2 linked regions of the Homo sapiens genome follow. The protein of the gene in region 2 purifies or fractionates together with the protein of the main gene of each other region. This does not show direct contact. Each region holds a gene or a part of one and is shown on either strand. Other genes may lie near its edges.

What was found. The genes of interacting proteins can lie anywhere in the genome.
Region 1: the proteins of PGM3 (region 2) and LACTB2 fractionate together in Homo sapiens (co-fractionation; one large-scale study listed by BioGRID). This does not show direct contact.

Annotation. Positions count from the first base shown.
Region 1 is NC_000008.11:70,666,386-70,670,661, forward strand, and holds the start of LACTB2 (endoribonuclease LACTB2), read right to left. Parts: upstream 2,801-4,276; 5' UTR 2,736-2,800; coding exon 2,614-2,735; intron 1-2,613.
Region 2 is NC_000006.12:83,186,766-83,190,265, forward strand, and holds part of PGM3 (phosphoacetylglucosamine mutase), read right to left. Parts: intron 2,034-3,500; coding exon 1,849-2,033; intron 311-1,848; coding exon 243-310; intron 1-242. UniProt on the Homo sapiens protein: Catalyzes the conversion of GlcNAc-6-P into GlcNAc-1-P during the synthesis of uridine diphosphate/UDP-GlcNAc, a sugar nucleotide critical to multiple glycosylation pathways including protein N- and O-glycosylation.

The DNA.
Region 1 (4,276 bases), on a different chromosome or scaffold from region 2:
AAAGGATGAATGAGATTAGCTGGGTAAAGAAGGGAGGAATGAGTGGAAGAAAGAGGAAAGCATGCGTGAAGGCCCTGAGACAGGGAATCACAAACCTCATCTGAGACACTAGAAGGCCAGCATGGCTGGAGTGGGAGAGGTTTGAGAGGAGCCTGATAAGACTGATGGAGGCCAGAATACACAAGGCCTTCCAGTTTTAATTCCTAAAATACCACTCAGGCTACAAAGGGAAGATTGGATTGAAGAGAGACAGAGGTAGTCGTACAGAAGCCAATTAGGAGGCTATTACAGTAGCCTAAGCAAGAGTTGTGCTGGCTTGGACTGAGTGACAGCAGGGGACATGAACAGATCTTCATAATGGCTTGGATATGCAGTAGGAAGCAAATAAATGTCAGGAAGGGTATTTAGGCATTTCCTTTGATGGCTTTGTTTATCAAGATATGAACAACTGAAGGAGGACCTGGCAGTTTTCTGGAAAGGTTATGAGTTCAGTATGGAAAACACTGAGTTCCAGGCAGCAGTGAGTCATGCAAATAGATTTAAAAGTTGGCTACTTGAGTCTGAAGATCAAGTTTGGAATTTGAACTTGAGCTATATATTTGGTAGTTAATAATAAACAGATAATAAAGGCAAAGCCAAATAAGTAGATGAGATCACCTAGGTAGAGAATACAGTAGAAGAACATGAGAGATGAGGATTATATACTGAATAACTAAAATAATTAAAGATTTGATAAAGAAGATGACTCTATCAAGGTGAAAGAGAAAGAGCAGCTCAAGAGGTAATAGGAAACCTGAAGAATGTGGTGTTGGCAAATTAAGGAGGGAGTCGTCAATGGTGTCAAAGCACTGAAGTTCAAGGAAGATGAGAACAGAAAAATACCATTGGGGTTAGTGATACAAAAGCCGCTTGTGATCTTAGAACTGTTTTGTGAAGCGGAACAGGTGGATACCAATCTCAGAACATCTGACAAGGGGCCAATTAATATTAACTTCTAGCCACCTTTTACTTTACACCTTTTACTTTATACAGTAGCATTATCTACACTTATTTCTAGCTCAACTATACGGACTCTCTAGTTCAACTATATGGAGAAATAATTTACATAGTGCAAGTAATTCCACTGGCCATTCCACTCCATTAATTTATGTGAGCAACAGTGTTAAGTAATTTAAGACGAGAGACTATAAATCTGCTTTTCCCTCAGTTAGTCTTTAAGTCTCTCTTAGCACTAGCACTTTGCTATGTTGAGTGTGATTATAGTGTTTAAAGATACAGTATGTATTTTTCATACAATATAGCCCCTCAACACAAGCCAATTTCTTCACCTGGTTTTCAAACAGAATCAGCCATCTGTTTCAACGCTGGAAAAAAGGCAGGTTGTGCTGAACTTACTGAGACAATACACTGATCTCCAACATGGTGTTCTTCTAAGAGACTTTCCAGGGTAATTCTGATAATATGCATCTTTTGTCTGAGGTATTGACTAGTTCAAGATGACACACTGTAGAGAGACCGCCTATGGATTTACTTGGTTGAGGGACTTCCAGCCAAGACAGACTGTACCCTAGAGATCTGGCATTTTTCCTGCTTAATTCTCTATCCTCCTAGATTCTGGTGGCAGCCTAAACCTTTGGTAACTACCTGACCCTGCCTTATTTACTCTGAACTTAATCTTTTACCTGCCCACTTTGCAGGTCTGCTGCTTCTAAAATTCTTATTTACTGGAAAAACGCCAAACAGTAGACACTTCCAAGGAAAACTCAATTAACTGTACTTACTAAATCGTTTTTAGTAATCAATTATATTTTAAAAATAATTTATGTCTTGACTGCACAATTAAATTCTATGCTCAAGAGAAACTACATTATCTGGGTTCATCCAGTAAAGACTACAAAAGTTGCTAAATGCCTAAGACTTACTATGCAGTAAACCAAATCTCCCATTCCTGCATAATTCCACTAAAACAGAATGCAGCTAAACAAGAGCAAAAGTATCTTCTTAGAAATACAGGTGTGTTACTGTGTCTGCAAATTAAACTCAAACAAGGTCACACACAATTGTAACAAAAAACTTCCCCAAATTACTTATGTCAGCTCCTCTTATGAGCCCACAGGCTGCAGAGAACCAATTTGGAAGCCAGGAGAATCCTGCCCTCTGCTGCTGAGTTGAGGAAATCGCCTCAACATAATTAATCGCTTTTGAGAAGGGAAGTTACACTCTGGGCAAAACACCAGTGAAAGTCAAGTGAGCAAAGTAAACGCTTTCTTGGACTCTTGACATCCGAATTTTCTCAACAGTTTAAACACGCACACCCTGGCATTCAAACATCAAGAACAGTAAATCGGGTTTCAAAACAGAAGTTTTTTTTTTTTTTTTTTTTTTTTTTTCCATTTCTCCCTAAATTAGAGAGCTATCACCTGGGGTGGTCGTATTTTAGCTAGCTTCGAGATCCGAGTGTCTGCGTGCAGTCCCGACGGGGCTGCTAGGCGCGGGGCTGCCCAGCTAGGGACAGGACGCGGCGCTCTCCACTGCCCGCGCAGCCGCGATCAGTCAAAGCCCGGGCTCCGGGGCCGGCTGCGAACGTTGGGGAGGTTGGAGAGGGACGTTTACCTGGGGCCGGTCCCCACTAGGTAGGTGTTGGTGCCTTGGAGGGTCATGGGACCCGGGTTACAGCCCAACACACGCACGACTCGATTGGACAGCCGCTCGACGCGCTGCAGTACAGCAGCCATTCCCGCCTCAGCCGCCCGCCGGCGTGTCGCCTATCTGGATACTCCAGCGCGGAAGAAGCCAACAGGCCGGGGATAGCGAGTAGCGTCCACGTGATGCCTCGCAACCCGGGAGGGAGGGGATTGGCCAGCGGCTGGTCCAGGTGTCATGTGACACCGCGGACGAGCCGGGGCGGGGATCCGGCAGCTAGGCCGGGGGGTGGGGGGGGCGGTGCGGAACTAGAGGTCACGTGACGCCGCGCGGGCTGCGCGGGCAGTGGTGGGAAGGCTGGCGCGAGGCGTGAGGTGGCGTGAGGCGAAGCTGGAATCTGCCTCTGTCACGGGGGCTGGTGCCTCACGGGTTTGTGTCCTAGACAGGCGAGTGGATCCAAGTGGGCGAGAGACATTTTAATCTGGAAGAGTCTTGTGATTTGGGAGACAGGTTTGGTAACCGTTCGTTATTCAGTAATAAATGTCAGGAAGGATTGCCAGATTTTTAGGCAGTGGCTCTGTGTGTGTGTGTGTGTGTGTGTGTGTGTGTGTAGTAGTAGTAGTAGTAGCCTGTTCATTTTTTTTTTTTTTTTTTTTGAGACGAAGTCTCGGTCTGTCGCCCAGGCTGGAGTGCAGTGGCGCGATCTCGGCTCACTGCAAGCCCCGCCTCCCGGGTTCACGCCATCCTCCTGCCTCGGCCTCCCGAGTAGCTGGGACTATAGGCGTCCGCCACCACGCCCGGCTAATTTTTTGTATTTTTAGTAGAGACCGGGTTTCATTGTGTTAGCCAGGAAGGTCTTGATCTCCTGACCTCGTGATCCGCCCGCCTCGGCCTCCCAAAGTGCTGGGATTACAGGCGTGAGCTACCACGCCGGGCCAGCCTGTTCATCTTTTATAATAAATAGTGGTAAGACATATTTACTTAGTACTTCCTACTATGCCTAAGTGCTTTCAACAAACATCCGACTTAACGCCCTTAATCCTCAGAACATTATTAAGAGGTGGACACTATTTTTGTTACAAATGAAAAACGGGGATTGGGCAGCTGCCCAGATGACAGAGTCTGCGTGTGCGGCCTTGCTCCTACCTGCCTCGCACTAACACTTGTCCCCCTCAGTGAGATTCAAGGAGCATGCCTCTGCCTGCCAGTGTTACCTGCCTGCCCAGAGAGCTAGGCTGGTCTTGTGGAGCCGTTTTGTGCCCAAGATGGAAGGGACTCATTTTCTCTGTAACAAGTCGGTTTCTTATCAGCCAAGTATTAACTATCCAGTGTTAACTACAGCTTCCCATAAAAAAAGTTGAGTTATAAATTACTTAAAAGAAAATACACAGATCCTGTAGACAGTTCCATCGAGTTATGACAATTGTATGTAATCACTGCCCCAAAGAGATGTAGAACATATCCACTGTAGCAGCCCACTCTTTTTTTTTTTAAAAAAAGGTGAGAAATTGACACATACAGTGCTTGGTGGCTTTTTTTTTTCCAGATATTTCTGATGAAGAAAACGATCTGCTCTTACCTATTTTATGAATCAGCAGCATAGTGTATCAGAGTGGCTAATGACATCTGCTTT
Region 2 (3,500 bases):
TTAGTTCAGAATTTCCCAGCTATAATCTCCTATAGTACTACCATAGGTAAGACAAAACATGCCTGCCCAGAAACGACCTGGAAGATGATTTTTAAAGTTAGTATTTTGTATCTAGGAGTTCATTTTTTAAACATTTTTTGTTCATCTGTATTTTCAAACTTTTCTAAATAAATATACATTACTTTTGTAAATTAAAGTTTTTTAAATATTAGTTTAATTTCCAACTCAGGATAACTACATACCATGGAATTGACCTCCTAGAACAGTCACACCATCTATTACAGATTGTGAAAGTTTCTCACTGCTGGGCCTAGGAAAGAAAAGGAAGAAAATAATATATCCCATCCTGAAACTGGCAGGGTTGCTGGTTCTGCAAGCAAATGCAAAAATTACATGCTACAAATTTCAAAATAGTAAGTTCCTGGTATCTGAACTGAAAGCTATGAACTCTCAAGATAACTGGTAAATTATAAGCATTTTCCAGTAGCCTTTCACAATCTAGTTCTAGGAAAAATTCTGGCTTTTAAATGAATTTATAAAATAGATATAAAGGACACTCTAACCACAGCATACCCAAATACCTTTTCAAGTTCGACTACAGCAACATGTCTGAACTCTAAGAACAGTAACAATAAACACTGAATATACACAGTGTGTATAAGACAGTACTTGTATTAAGCTGCCAAGGATATAGAACCTGTTTTCCATTTTGTAAAGTCAGAACAAATTATCTATCTGAAAATAAAACAGATTACAAAACTGCCTTGGCCAGGCACAGTGGCTCACACCTGTAATCCCAGCACTTTGGGAGGCCGAGGTGGGTGGATCACAAGATTGAGACCATCCTGGCCAACACGGTGAAACCACGTCTCTACTAAAAATACAAAAATTAGCTGGGCGTGGTGGCACACAGCTGTAGTCCCAGCTACTCGGGAGGCTGAGGCAGGAGAATCACTTGACCCTGGGAGTCAGAGGGTGCAATGAGCCAAGACTGTGCCACTGCACTCCAGCCTGGTGACAGAGCGAGACTCCGTATCAAAAAAATAAAAAATAATAAAAAAACTGCCTTGTAGGAAAAAACGTTTCATCACTTACATTAGTTAATAGTTAAGAACCAAATACATGTGGGATGACTTTACTGTGGTGGGATAATTTACTTCAGAACATAAGTTACTCTGCTACCATCGTCGGTATCTGGAAAACCCTCTGGTAATACAACAGAGGGTAAAAAAACCAGTCCAGGTATTGGAGATTGAGTAGAAATTTCCTTTTGAAATAATCTCAGGTTAAAACCAGATCTTATGCAAAAGGAAATGCTACTGTTGCAAAGTATACTTTTCATCTAATATTTTACAAAAAGACATTTTTGTTAAGAAAGGCAAAAGCTGCAAAACAGAACTATGTGGAAAATAATATTGTAGTTTACAGTGAGCTCCAGCATGGGAAAATGATATAAATATTTGAAACAATAATAACACAGATTACAAAGTAAATCTTTAAAAATAATGAGTTCAAATCATGTGTTGACTCTGTAGGGAAAAAAAAATAAACCTACAGAGGGGGTGGGAGACATTTATTGAGTGCTTCTCTTGTGTCAGGAAGTATTTTACATACATTATTCTGCAGCTTGGGTTTTGGAGTAGGGTTTTAAACCAGAGTCAGACTCCAAACCCCAAGCTGCAGTAGTGACTTAGCTACTACATCCTACTAGAAAGGCCAGGCAGGTAGACATGCAACTCAGGGTAGTTCCACTTTACTTCTTTCCATTTGTCTTGGATTAAAACTGATACAATCGTTTATATCACGTTCCCAAAGGTTTTTTTTTTTACCAGTAACTCTTATCATCACCTGGTATCTCTACCAATAACTACAAAGGCATCTTGTTGCAGATTCACAGCTTCTTTCTCGCTGATGTCAATAAGCACTCTCTGCATATCTTGTTCCTCAGCATTTGCTAAACAGGTGGCATGTTCCTCCCAGGATGGTGCCAACATTTCACCCAAAGGATCAACCAATTTTACACCATTGTCTTCCTTAAAAGAAAAACAAACAATAAGCAATCTGTGCATACTCATGAGGCTGAGTTGAGAACAGAACTCAAAAGCTGTTTCCCTTCAACCAAAGACAGTGATGGCTGAGCAGCTTCAACAATAAACACCAAATATTAATACTGGACCCTGGATTAGGTATTTTATGTATATATATTACCTCATTAAATCCTCATGACACACATAATCAATTAAACTAATAATCCTATTTTAATTTCAATCTTCGAGAAAACTGAGCTTCAGAGAGGTTAGGTAATTTGCTTATGATCATACAGCTAACAAATGTCAGTACTGATATTAAAACAGCAAGTCTATCTTACTCGCCTAAAAACACTATGCCACACTAGCCTTTGTAAAAGGCTGTGATCTGTGCATCCACTATCCATAAACTGACTAGGGCACAAGTGGAGCAGAATAAGGGCACACAGAGATCCTTCTCACTATGACTCGGAACTCCAAGAACACACTAGCCAGCTTGTCAACCAGCGGGTAGGACAGACACTGAAAACTGCCTCCCAACACTGTTCTGCTCAAATTCGTGGAAAGAAAGTGTAGTTCACAGTGAATGTCACCTGAAAGAAAAGAGAATCATTTTGAGAAGTGCCTCTGGAACTAGCAATAAATGTGAGGGTCTTCCTAGAAGTCAATCAGTCAATCAATTATGGTGACTTACATATTTAGACATATACACATTTATAATGATCACATATTTGGACAAGCAATGCCCTTGTTTGGGGGAAGAGGAGGTTACAATCCTTCACAGACCTACACCACTTTAACTTGCTGCTGATTTAGCTACAAAGGCAAAAATCCCACAGCCCCAGCAATCAAATAGAAGCATATTATTCAAACCCTGTATTAATGGCCTATAGCTAATAAAGAATAACTACATTGTGTCAAGAGGTTGGCTAAGATATAGAAACAACAAAAGTGCTCATAAACAGATAAATGGATGAAGAAAATGTGGTATATATACACAATAGAATATTATTCAGCCTTAAAAAAGAAATACTGCCATTTGCATCATGGTTGAATCTGGAAGACATTATGCGAAGTTAAATAAGCCAGACACATGAAGACAAATACTGCAGGCTCATAACATACATGTGTTATGTAAAAAAGTGAAACTCACAGAAACACAGAGTAGTATGGTGGCGGCTAGAGGGTAAGGGAAATGGGGAGATGCTGGCCAATGGGCATAAACTTGCAGTTATAAGATGAATAAGTTCTGGAAGACTAACGTACAGCGTGGTGACTATAGTTCATAATAATATATATTGAAAATGTGTTGAGCGTACGTCTTAAGTATTCCCACCACAAAACAAGGTAACTATGTGAGCTAATGGATATGTTAATTAGCCTGATAGTGGTAATCATTTCACAATGTATACATATATCAAAACATGGTGTTGTATGACTTGAATTATACAATTTTTATTTATCACTTATACC